3 separate regions of the Homo sapiens genome follow, and all the other regions are linked to region 3. Evidence: fine-mapped QTL for protein levels in blood plasma. A gene starts in region 3. Each other region holds a variant in brackets. All regions are shown on one strand. Distances are between the middles of the regions. Region 1 overlaps TEX14 (testis expressed 14, intercellular bridge forming factor). Region 2 overlaps LPO (lactoperoxidase). Region 3 holds the start of LPO (lactoperoxidase).

The links. PIP is the posterior inclusion probability: the model's chance that the variant is causal. The UK Biobank Pharma Proteomics Project read protein levels with antibody pairs (Olink). The fine-mapping took linkage between variants from a reference panel, not from the people measured, so its PIPs are less certain.
Region 1: its variant is fine-mapped to the plasma level of the LPO protein (UK Biobank, PIP 0.97).
Region 2: its variant is fine-mapped to the plasma level of the LPO protein (UK Biobank, PIP above 0.99). The variant lies in the coding sequence of LPO. If it changes the protein, the assay may bind it differently, which can mimic a change of level.

What each region holds. Positions count from the first base shown.
Region 1 is chr17:58,589,369-58,593,720 of GRCh38, forward strand. TEX14 (testis expressed 14, intercellular bridge forming factor) reads right to left here. Exons shown (of 32, transcript NM_031272.5): 15 at 4,187-4,293. Among named protein-coding and RNA genes, the nearest start is that of SEPTIN4, 47 kb to the left of the region's middle. The variant T/G (reference allele first, on the strand shown) is at 2,285.
Region 2 is chr17:58,250,204-58,254,203 of GRCh38, forward strand. LPO (lactoperoxidase) reads left to right here. Exons shown (of 13, transcript NM_006151.3): 7 at 212-418; 8 at 1,979-2,303. Among named protein-coding and RNA genes, the nearest start is that of LPO, 14 kb to the left of the region's middle. The variant A/ACCAT (reference allele first, on the strand shown) is at 2,211.
Region 3 is chr17:58,236,883-58,241,234 of GRCh38, forward strand. It overlaps LPO (lactoperoxidase), which reads left to right and starts at 1,702. Exons shown (of 13, transcript NM_006151.3): 1 at 1,702-1,857.

The DNA.
Region 1 (4,352 bases), 350 kb after region 3:
TGGCCAACATGGTGAAACCCCGTATCTCCTAAAAATACAAAAAATTAGCTGGGCATGGTGGCGGGCGCCTGTAATCCCAGCTACTTGGGAGGCTGAGGCAGGAGAATCTCTTGAACCCGGGAGGCAGAGGTTGCAGTGAGCCAAGATCCACTGCGCTCCAGCTTGGGCAACAGTGCGAGACTCCGTCTCAAAAAAAAAAAAAAAAAAAAGTGTGTGCTCTGTGGCACAGATATGAATTCCCTGTTATCTAGAATGCCCTACTCTCCAGCTGGACCAGAAAGCAGAGAGACTGCTGAATCAGAGAGGGTAGATCTGATCAGCTTCCTTTTTAAAAAAATAAAATTCTTTTGGAGATAGGGTCTGACTCTGTCACTAGGCTGGAGTACAGTGGCACAATCACAGATTACTGCAGGCTCAACTTCCCAGGCTCCAGCGATCCTCCCACCTCAGCCTCCCAAGTAGCTGGGACCACAGGCACCTGCCACCACAGCCAGCTAGTTTTTGTATTTTTGGTAGGGATGAAGTCACACAATGTTTGTTGCCCAGCGTGGTCTCAAACTCCCAGACTTCAAGCGACCCTCACACATTGGCCCCATAAAGTGAACTGAGATTGGCCAGGCGTGGTGGCTCACGCCTGTAATCCCAGCACTTTGGGAGGCCATGGCGGGCAGATCACAAAGTCAAGAGATGGAGACCATCCTGGACAACATGGTGAAATCTTGTCTCTACTAAAAATACAAAAATTAGCCGGGTGTGGTGGTGCACGCCTGTAATCCCAGCTACTCAGGAGTCTGAGACAGGAGAATCGCTTGAACCCAGGAGGCGGAGGTTGCAGTGAGCCGAGTTTGCGCCACTGCACTCCAGCCTGGCGACATAGCAAGACTCTGTGTCAAAAAAAAAAAAAAAAAAAAACCATGAACTGAGATTGCGCCACTGCAAGGAAGCCTGGGCGACAGAGCGAGACCCTGTCTTAAAAAGGAGGGGAAAAGAATCCTTAAAATCTTCAAACCCTTTGACCAAGTAATTCTGCTTCTGAGAATCCATCCTGAGGAAATAATCCAAAATGCAAAAACAAAGCATTATTTACAAGTAACTGTGTCCCTATTCATAACAGAATAAAGAATGAAGCAACCTAAAATTCAACAATAGGTGAAATCCAACTATTTTTGTTGTTGTTGTTGTTGTTGTTGTTGTTGTTGTTGTTTGAGACAGGGTCTTATTCTGTCGCCCAAACTGGAATGCAGTGGCATAATCATGGCACTGCAGCCTTGACCTCCCCAGGATCAGGTGATCCTCCCACCTCAGCCTCCCAAGTAGGAGAGGGTGTGGGTCTACAGCCGCACACCACCATGCCTGGCTAATTTTTTGTAGAGATGGTGTTTTGCCATGTTTCCCAGGGTAGTCTCCAATTCCTGGGCTCAAGTGATCTGCCTGTCTTGGCTTCCGAAAGTGCTGGGATTACAGGTGGGAGCCACCTTGCCCAGCCCAACAATTTCAAAATAAGTTTACAGGGTTTTTTTTTTTTAATAACATAGAGTAATGTTTACATTCTAATGTAAAGTGAAAATCATGACATAAAATTGCTTACACATATCGTAATTGTCACTTTTTTTTTAAGCACACAAAAAGACTAGAGGAACAGGTGGAAAAATGTCAAACTTTTTTTTGGTCTGTTCTTTGTACTTCTGAGGGAAGAGGGTGCCGAGCAGGGGAGGCCACAACAACTATGGGTTTTTCTTTGTCATCTAATGGCTATGTCATCCCATTTGCTTCTATCAGTGGTGTGAGTGCCAAACACTCTGATGCCAGCTAGGTAGTTCTTCATTATTCCCTTCATAGGAATAAAATCCACTGATCTAAAATGTCTGGCTGGGCGCGGTGGCTCACGCCTGTAATCCCAACACTTTGGGAGGCCAAGGTGGGTGGATCACCTGAGGTCAGGAGTTTGAGACCAGCCTGACCAACATGGAGAAACTCCATCTCTACTAAAAAATACAAAATTAACCAGGCCTGGTGGTGCATGTCTGTAATCCCAGCTACTTGGGAGGATGAGGCAGGAGAATCGCTTGAACCTGGGAGGTGGAGGTTGCAGTGAGCCAATATCGCGCCATTGCACTCCAGCCTGGGGAACAAGGGCGAAACTCCATTTCAAAAATATAAAAAATAAATAAATAAAATGTCTGGACATTTTCCTTCATTTTCCCTTACATACATATTTGCCAACATGAAACAAACAGCAAACTCGTCATTAGTCTCAATCACCACTAGGGCGAGGAATAAAAAG[T/G]TTTTTTTTCCAGGAGAACTGACTTCAAAGTTGTGGATTAGTGCTACCATTTATCCACAGGAAAAAAAAAAAACAAAAAAAAACTAAAACTGATATACTAGTCTGTCGTGAAAAACATATATTGGCTGGGAGTGGTGACTTACACCTATAATCCCAGTACTTTGGGAGGCTGAGGTGGGTGGATGACCTGAGGTCAGGAGTTCAAGACCAGCCTGGCCAACATGGTGAAACCCCATCTCTACTAAAAATATAAAAAATTAGCTGGGCATGGTGGTGGGCACCTGTAATCCCAGCTACTCAGGAGGCTGAGACAGGAGGATCGCTTGAACCCAGGAGGTGGAGTTTGCAGTGAGTCGAGATCACGCCACTGCACTCTATCTAGCCTGGGCAACAAGAGTGAAACTCCATCTCAAAAAAAAAAAAGAAAGAAAAAAAAATTATTGCCCTTTTAGTAATTCCCTTACTTATAATACCTAACTAAATTTAAACCAAAAAAAATTTTAATCAATTTTTTAAAAATTGAAAAAAAATTCCCACACACCAAATAAATTTGTTTTACTTAAGTTCGTTCTTTATTTATTTAATTTTTTTTTTTGAGTCAGAATCTCACTCTGTTGCCAAGGCTGGAGTGCAGTGGTGCCATCTCAGCTCACTGCAACTTCTGCCTCCTGGGTTCGAGTGATTCTTTTTTTTTTTTTTTGAGACGGAGTCTTGCTCTATCGCCCAGGCTGGACTGCAGTGGCGCGATCTCCTCTCACTGCAAGCTCTGCTTCCTGGGTTCACGCCATTTTCCTGCCTCAGCCTCCCGAGTAGCTGGGACTATAGGCGCCCGCCACCACGCCCGGCTAATTTTTTGTATTTTTAGTAGAGACGGGGTGTCACCATGTTAGCCAGGATGGTCTCGATCTCCTGACCTCGTGATCTGCCTGCCTTGGCCTCCCAAAGCGCTGGGATTACAGGTGTGAGCCACCGCACCCAGCTGTTCAAGCTATTATTGAGCTTCCACCTCCCAAGTAGCTGGGATTACAGGTGCCCGCCACCACGCCCGGCTAATTTATGTATTTTTAGTAGAGACGGGGTTTCACCATGTTGGCCAGGCTGCTCTCGAACTCCTGACCTCAAGTGATCCGCCCACCTTGGCCTCCCAAAGTGCTAGGATTACAGGCGTGACCCACCACACTCGGCCTGTTTTACTTAAGTTCTTTAAAACTCAGCATGTGTGTGTGTATGTATGAATATATGTATGTATGTATACACATGCACGAATATATGTGTATATGCATATATATGCATGAATACATATATACCTATGTGTGCATGAATACATATACATATATGTATGAATATATTATATATACGTATATGTGTATGAATATATTATATATACATATATGTGTATGAACATATATACAAACACACACACACTCTTCTTCCAGTAATTTGTGCTAAAGTCAATTCATTTCATTCGTCTGGCTGGAAATCACACACCCCAGGGTCATAGTGATGTTGTTCAACTCTCTCTGGAGTCAGTGACACTTACTTTAAACAACCCTGGTTTCCAATTAGTTTAGTTTCTGGAGCACTGGTAAATGGAATACCTGGTGTTTGTTTTTATAAGAAAAACTATCTGGGCAGTTGCGGAAAGGCAAGATGCTTTGCTTCTAACAACTGATGAGTTCTGTCTGATTAACCTGCCAGCCACTTGGGCTTTGATGTCTCCTCAAGTTCCCATGACACTGCTCTTCCTACTCACTCAGTGGGAGAACCTGCCAATCTGCATTACTCTTCTTCATCACTCACAGTCCTTTTGTCACTAGACATAAGAAGATCACTGAGTGGCCTCAGAGACACACAGAAGTCTAAAGGCATAGTGACATTAAGAACAACAAAATGTTGACCCACCTACTGGTATTTTGGATCCTGCTTGTTTCCAAACTGTCCTTGGCTCCTTGAGTGCACTGAAATTGTTCATCTGTGTTCTGTTTTCCAGGGTCACAAAGAGTCGGCAGCTTAAAAAGCAATAAACATGTTTCAGGGCTTTGATGAGAGAATTCCCACTCTCTTCACT
Region 2 (4,000 bases), 13 kb after region 3:
TGTAGCGGCAGGACCTTGGAGAACTGACTTCACCTGTCCAGGATTCAATCTCCCCCTCTACAGAATAGGCTAATGCCACCCACCTCACAAACTCCTTGTAGGGATTAAGTGCACTTGTAACATGGTAGGTAGTTAATAAGCTGTAGTTGCATCTGAATCCTCAAAGCACTTTTTCCTCTAATCTGCCCTCCCCTTCTCTCTCCATCTGTAGGCCCGGGAGGTATCTAACAAGATTGTTGGCTATCTGAATGAGGAGGGTGTTCTGGACCAAAACAGGTCCCTGCTCTTCATGCAGTGGGGTCAGATTGTGGATCATGACCTGGACTTTGCCCCTGACACCGAGCTGGGGAGTAGCGAGTACTCCAAAGCCCAGTGTGATGAGTACTGTATCCAGGGAGACAACTGCTTCCCCATCATGGTACGGCCCTGCAGCTAGGCATCTCTGACTAGCCCCTTGCCCACCCTGATGTAGCAGACATTCCCAGCTCATCAGCTAGGATCTCTGGATAGATCTGGGATACTGATTTGGTAGTTTCCCATGCCTCACGTGTCCATTCGTTCACTCATCCGTTTATTCAGTAAATAGACATTGACCACCCCATACCAGGCAGTGCACTAAGCGCTGAGGATTCCAAAGTGAACAGGACACCGCTCCTGCTCTCAAGAACAAAGGGCCAGTGTGGGAATTGGACAAGTAAACTACTGATAGCAGAATGGGAACACTGGAGAAGGTTGTCTACATTCCCGACCCAGCAGCATTGGTAAAACCTGCTTATTAGAAATGTAAAATCTCAGTTGGGCGAGGCGGCTCATGCCTATAATCCCAGCACTTGGGGAGGCTGAGGTGGACAGATCACCTGAGGTCAAGAGTTTGAGACCAGCCTGGCCAACATGGTGAAACCCCGTCTCTACTAAAAATACAAAAATTAGCCTGGCGAGGTGGCACATGCATGTGGTCCCAGCTACTCAGGAGGTTGAGGCAGGAGAACCGCTTGAACCTGGGAGGCGGAGGTTGCAGTGAGCCGAGATCACGCCACTGCACTCCAGCCTGGGCAACAGAGCAAGATTCCAACTCAAAAAAGAAAAAAGAAAAAGAAAAAAAAAATGCAAAATCTCAAGTCTCACCCAAGATGTTAGGAAATAGATTCTACATTTTTACCAAGATCAACAGAGATTCATTTTATACATGATAAAGTTTATACTGCTGTACATCATCGTGGAGGATGACTTCAACTCCACTCAGAAGGACTTGAAACCTGGATGAATCCGAGTGAGCAGCAGGGATTTGTAGGGATTTCCATCCGGAAGGGAGAGGAGCTTGCAGCAATGCATCTTTTCTTATTATTCATGGGTATTACAGTTGGAGAGTCATTTCTTCACTCAAAGAATAAATCGAGGCTATGTGCTGTGGTATAAAGAGCATAAACTGTGGAATGAAGCCAATGATCTGAATCCTACATCTTTCCCTTCCAGTGTATAAGTTCTTAGGCAACTTACTTAACTTTTCTGAGCCCCAGTTTTCTCATCTATAAAATGGAACTGAATTGTCCACCTTACAGGGTTTTTTTGAGGACTGAGATGAGTTAAAGTATGCATAATTCCTGGCACATGGTAAGTCCAAAATAAATACATGGCAGCTGTTGTTAGTAGTAATTATTAACAAACCTGTTCCCACCTCGTGTCCTGCTTTCCTGTCCAGGGAGCTCAATACTCCCTCCTCACCAGAAATTTGGAGCCCTCACTGTGAGGACTGAATGATTACCCTCAGTTCTTTCACACAACAGGATGTAATGAACTTCAGGATATTATGAGCCCAGGGTGTGTAATGTCAGCAAGAAGTGTCTGGGGTCAGTGTCTGGTACCAGGGTCCTAGGAGGGTGCCATCAGCATCTTTGCATCCAGACTTGCCCTGGGGAGAGGTTGCCAGGACCCAGCTGTTCCACCCCTGCCCAGTCACTTATGCCCACTCTCTCTGCAGTTCCCACCCAATGACCCCAAGGCGGGGACTCAAGGGAAATGCATGCCTTTCTTCCGAGCTGGGTTCGTCTGCCCCACTCCACCCTACAAGTCCCTGGCCCGAGAGCAGATCAACGCTCTGACCTCCTTCCTGGATGCCAGCTTTGTGTACAGCTCCGAGCCAAGCCTGGCCAGCCGCCTCCGCAACCTCAGCAGCCCCCTGGGCCTCATGGCTGTCAACCAGGAGGTCTCAG[A/ACCAT]CCATGGACTACCCTACCTGCCCTATGACAGCAAGAAGCCAAGCCCCTGTGAGTTCATCAACACCACTGCCCGTGTGCCCTGCTTCCTGGCAGGTGAGTCTAGCCTGGGAACAGAAGGGCCCAAGGACAAGGGGATTATCCAGGGAAGCTTTACCACTGCCCCCTTCTTGTCATCTTTCTGGAAAAATGCACACTGAGCCATTGCTGTCCCTAGCAGTGGTCCAGGACTAGCAGAAGGGCCCAGATGAATAAAGAATTCCAGAACATATGTTCACTGTAAAACAAAATCAGGAAGTCCAGAAAAGTAACAAAGAAAATAAAAAGAAAGTGCCAGGCTTGGTGGCTCACGCCTGTAATCCCAGCACTTTGGGAGGCCGAGGCAGGCAGATCATGAGGTCACGAGATCGAGACCATCCTGGCTAACATGGTGAAACCCCGTCTCTTCTAAAAACACAAAAAATTAGCCGGGCGTGGTGGCACACCCCTGTAGTCCCAGCTACTCTGGAGGCTGAGGTAGAAGAATCACCTGAACCCAGGAGGCGGAGGTTGCAGTGAGCCGAGATCACGCCACTGCACTCCAGCCTGGGCAACAAAGCAAGACTCCATCTCAAAAAAAAAAAAAAAAAAAAAAAAAAGAAAGAAAGAAAGAAAAGAAAAGAAAAAGAAAATTCACACAATCCCACTACCCACCAATAATCATCGTTAACATTTTCATGCTTATTTTCCAGTATTTTTTCTATCACAGATACAGTTCTACATTGTTTTACATAATCGGGTCTTACTATAAATAATGCTCCAAAACCTGATGTCTTCACTTAATTTACTCCATGCCATTAACTGTTCTTCTATGACGTGATTTTTAATGGCTGCCTGGTATTTCATGACACATATTACCATCATTTATTTTCTCAATCCTACTTGGGGGAATTTAGTTATTTCAAGTTTTCCTGTGTTTTGTTGCTGTTGTTTAGGTAATGAACATCTTCATTGATAAATCTTTGTTCTCATTTTTAATACATTTATTAAGCTAATTTCCCAGAAGAGGAAGTTCTAGATGAAGAGGAATGTATATTTTTAAAGCTTTTTATAACCTGGGGACAAAATCCCCATTCCATTCAGCCTGTGCACGACCAAAGCCCTGCTAATTCTGTTCATTCCAGGTGCCCTCCTGGTCCTCTCTGTCTCCGGCTTCTAGAGGCCATCCCACCCTCAAACATCCTCTCTCTTTGGACAAACCCCCTGGCCACCCTGACATTGCAGAAGGCCAGCTCTTAGGCCAAGATACCTTTATAGATCTTTTGGATTTTGTGTTCACATATATCCCACAGCAATCCAGACACAAAACCGAGTTCTTTCTTGTTTTTCATAAAAATATGCACTCACACCAAGAATTTACAATTTTAAATAGATTTCCTGGCCTGGTGCAGTGGCTCATGCCTGTAATCCCAACACTTTGGGAGGCTTAGGTGGGAGGATTGCTTGAGGCCACAAGTTCGAGAACAGCCTGGGCAACATAGCAAGACCCCTGTCTCTACAAAAAATTTAAAAACTAGCAACACATGGTGGCACATGCCTGTAGTCCCAGCTACTCTGGAGGCTGAAACAGGAGGATCACTTGAGCCCACGAGGTTGAGGCTTCAGTTAGCCAAGATAATGCCATTGCACTCCAGCCTGGGCAACAGAGCAAGACTGTCCAGATAGATAGATAGATGATGATAGATATATAGATATATAGATATATAGATAGATAGATAGATAGATAGATAGATAGATAGATAGACTCTCCTAAA
Region 3 (4,352 bases):
AGGTCCTTACTGGGCTGGAGCTGACACTGCCCCATCCTATTTGACCCATTACAGAAAGACCAAAGCTAGGACATATCATATCATGTCATAACATGATAAAACCCGGGAATAATCAGACCTGTATTTTGCTGTTACCCTGACCAATAAGTCACTATATTTTGTACATAGGAAGCAATGTTATCCCATAGGGTCTTCTAAAAGGAAGTTCCATCTTCAGATTATTCAGAACCAACTAGGTCAAGATCTGCCTAACAACACAGCTTCCTGAACATATTAAGCATAAAACTCAGAGGCAAGAACCTTGAGAAACATGTGCCAAAGTTCAGGGAATGGTCAGACACAGAAAAACAATGCTTGGCTAAGGAGCTGAAGTGTGTTTCAAAGAAAACAAGAAGAGCCTGATGTCTCATTCACCTCTCCTGGACAGCTGCCTTCTTCCGAGATGCCCAGCTTATTTGCCTGGATTCATCACGAGAGAAGTAGTTTTTAGATATATTCCACCATCTAGAGAAAGGAAATATCACTTTTTTGAAGGCGAACCAAGAAGTCTGTTTTGGGGTTGATAAATTTCTGACAGTTGCTCCCAGAGTATTTTCAACTCAAAGTATAATTTCATAAAGAGGCTTATTATGTTTTAAATTGTCTGTCTGTAAAATATACTTTCATGAAATTTTGTTTTCTCGGAATCTTCCTTTTTCCTTCTTGTATGAATCTAATGAACTTGAATTTCCAAAGTCATTGAGGTAGGAAAGGTATGTAACATTATGCTTGAGCTTTAGGTCAATAATTTATACGATAGTGGTGGTTTTGTTTTGTTTCGTTTTGTTGAGACAGAGTCTCGTCCTGTCACCCAGGCTGGAGTGCAATGGCATGATCTTGGCTCACTGCAACCCCTGCCTCCCAGGTTCAAGTGATTCTCCCACCTCAGCCTCCCAGGTAGCTGGGATTACAGGTATGCACCTCCATGCCTGGTTAATTTTTGTGTTTTTAGTAGAGACAGGGTTTCACCATGTTGGCTGGGCTGGTCTCCAACTCCTGACCTCAAGTGATCCACCCACCTTGGCCTCCCAGATTCTGGAGTTTTTTAAATGGGTCACCCTATAGAAGGCATGAAGTCATAGAATCATAATAATCACCAAAACCAACCATTGATTTCAATACTAGAAAATTTGAGACACCAGAAGGTGAAGTGACTTGCCTAGAGCCATACAATGGCAGAGGCAGGGACTGCAACCCACTATGAAAGCTTAGGGCTCTTCTCACCCTTTGGTGGCCAAAAGTATTTTGAAATTTTGACCAAAAAAATTAATGTTTATTGATCACTTTAAATCCAAAAGATGAATCCACTGGATTCCACAGTAAATTGGGTGGAATGTAAGGGAGGGATCAAAGGGCAGTGAATATATGAATGGGGAGGAGAACCATTTAGCTAGGTGCAAAAGTAATTGCGGTTTTTGCAATACTTTTGCACCAACCTAATAATTGTTCATAATTCTAAGAGCTATTCGGATCCCATTAGGAGCTTAAAAGGGACAAATGTGCTCAGGGCATGCAGTTTTTGCCTTCCGGAACTAGATCAGGATCATGCATTTAAGCTAGAAAATGGAAAGAGGAGTTGCTTCACCCACAGTCAGTGCTATTGCATCAACCAATCCCTGCCATTCTGCAGTTTCCTGGTGTATCTGCCCGGAGTCACACAGTCTTTCCTGCTAAGCCTCAGCGTCTCCTCCAAGCCACATCAAAATCTTTCCTTCTGGGCCTTTCCCAGAAGTGAATTCTTGCTGGAAGGTATAAAAGACCAGCTCCTCCAAGCAGAGCAACTCCCTGGCTGCCGTGAAAAGACAAGGCACTGGGCAGGTAAGACTCGTCAACTTTCATCTTTCCTGGTTTCTGCAAAGTTGATGATGAAATTTCCTAACGTCTTCTCAGAAAGCTTAACACTGGATTTAGACTTGTCTCTATCAGGCACTTTCTGGTGCCAGCTTTAGCCACCCCATGGCACACTCCTCTTGTTTGGTATAAGAGAGAATGTAATTAAGCCTCCCCCCACCACTGTGGGGGAAAAAGGCTTTTCTGTGTCTGAAAACTATGTCAGAGAATCATAAACTCTTAGGGCTGGAAGGTACCATAGACCTCTCTTATCCACCTTGTTTAGGAACTGAGACTTAAGCAATTTAATGTGTCCAGAGTCACACAGGAATTTGGGGGAAAACAGTGACAGAATGGTGCTCCCTGTGCTGTTCTTGAGACAGTGTGATGAAATCTGGCCTCTCCACTATAGTGGAGATTTTGCAGTGTTTTAAGGGGTTCCCTAAGCCGGAGCTGTCAGGTCTTCATCTCATTTCCAGCATCTCATGCCTGCCATCTGCAGCAGATCCGACCATCTAGTTTGCCCTCAATGTCTAGTCCTAGCTGTCTTAAGTGCCCTGTGGACACCTGGCTCTCAAGCAGGTGTGTGACCTGTATGCAGCGGTAGTAGGCAGGCTTCATTTTGGGGGAATGGGGTGGTTAAATTATATTTGTTTTTTATGCAATTGTGTGCCTCAAATCTTTCAGTTGAAGTAGATTATTTCCGCTCTAGAGGGCTTGATAAGAGCTATCTCTTCATTCTCATCCTGATCTTGGAGTCACTCAAAAGATCAAGAGAGTGTTCCTGCAGGTGATGGGGCAAGAATTATGGCTTTCCTATTGGCTCACTCCACCACCCTCCACAGGGCTCTTTACAATCATGGAAGAGAATCTCACTGACTTCATCCCTTCTCAGGCCTTCCCCCTATCTCCTTGGTGACTGCTCAGCGACATTGAGAACCAAAGTCTGGAAGGCCTTGGTACTCAGAGTGTGGTCTGCAGACCAGCAACATCATCATCACCTGGAGCTTACTGGAAATGCAGACTTTCAGGCCCCTTCTATGACCTTCTGAGTCAGAATCTGCATTTACCAAAATCCCTAGGTGATAGTAGGCACATTACAGTGTGAGAGGCTTGCCGAGGGACTATCTCTGCCCTCTCCCTCTGCAACCTCCAGATGCTGAATTTCTCTGCTCTAGGAGTTTTATTCATTCAGCATGCACCCAACACCTATTATGTATTGACATGCTTAGGTCCTGGGAAAACAAATAAATAAGATGGAGCCCTTGAGGAGTTCATGGTCTGATAGGGGAAACAGATGTGAAGACAGTAATATGAGATATGGATGAAATACTGTGGGAGGACAGAAAAAGGAACGATCTAACTTTTCCTGGAGAAAACTGGTAAACTTCACAGAGGAGGTGAAATTTGGTCTGGGTTTTGAAGAATGAATAGGAGTTTATTAGCCAGAGAGGGTATTGTATAGGGAAGAGCATGAGTAGAGGCATGGGATTGTGGACCAGCCTGGCATTTGAGGGGCAAAGGCTGTGGCTCTGTCTCCAGATAGTGCTTCATGTCCCAGGGAAGGCTCCAGGCTTTGCTGCAAATCAAAGGGCTTGGGAAATGGTTTCTGCACTCAGCATGTTGATAAGAATATGGATAAATATCTACACATCACAGGAGCCTCTTGTTGGCCTCTTACACTCTAAAGCCCCAGGCCCTCTTGCCCTGTGTGGTTCTGGCTGAAGACAGTGTCCCTCTAGAATCTTTCTGCACACCCCCTTTTCAGTGACATGACCTTGTATTCACCTGGCTCTGATTTTTGTTCATACCCGTCCCTCACACCCACCAGGAACATTGCCCAAGACATGGGAAAATAATTTCTCTCTGGCCTTGAAGTCCCCCTCCTCCACTTTCCAGTGAGGAGAGCATGAAGGGGGTCCTAAAGAAGAGGAGAGGAGAATTGAATATTTAAGTATTGTTTCCTGTTCAAATTTCTCAACTTTCATGTCTTCTTCTATGATTTTGTCTTCCTCAGGCTGTCTCAGATGATGTCTTTTTAAAAAATGGACTAATTTTTTACTTTGTGTTTGTCATTTATTAGGAAACGCATTAGTCATTCAAAGAACAATATAATGAATGTTTGTGCCCACAGCCCTCTTTAAAAAAATCAGTGATATGGTGGTTGCCAGGAGCTAGGGGGAAGGGGAAATAGGGAGTTGGTGTTCAATGGGTATAGGGTTTCAGTTTTTACAGGATGAAAATGTTCTAGAGATCCATTGTGCAACATGTGAATATACCTAACATTACAGTACTGTAGAGTTTAAATGACTAGGATGCTAAATTTTATGCTATGTGGATTTTTGTTGTTGTTGTTCTTTTCTTTTCTTTTTTCTTTTTTTTTTTTTTTTTTTTTTTGAGCCAGGCTGGAGTGCAGTGGCGCAATCTTGGCTCACTGCAGCCTCCACCTCCCAGGTTCAAGGGATTCTCCTGCCTCAGTCTCC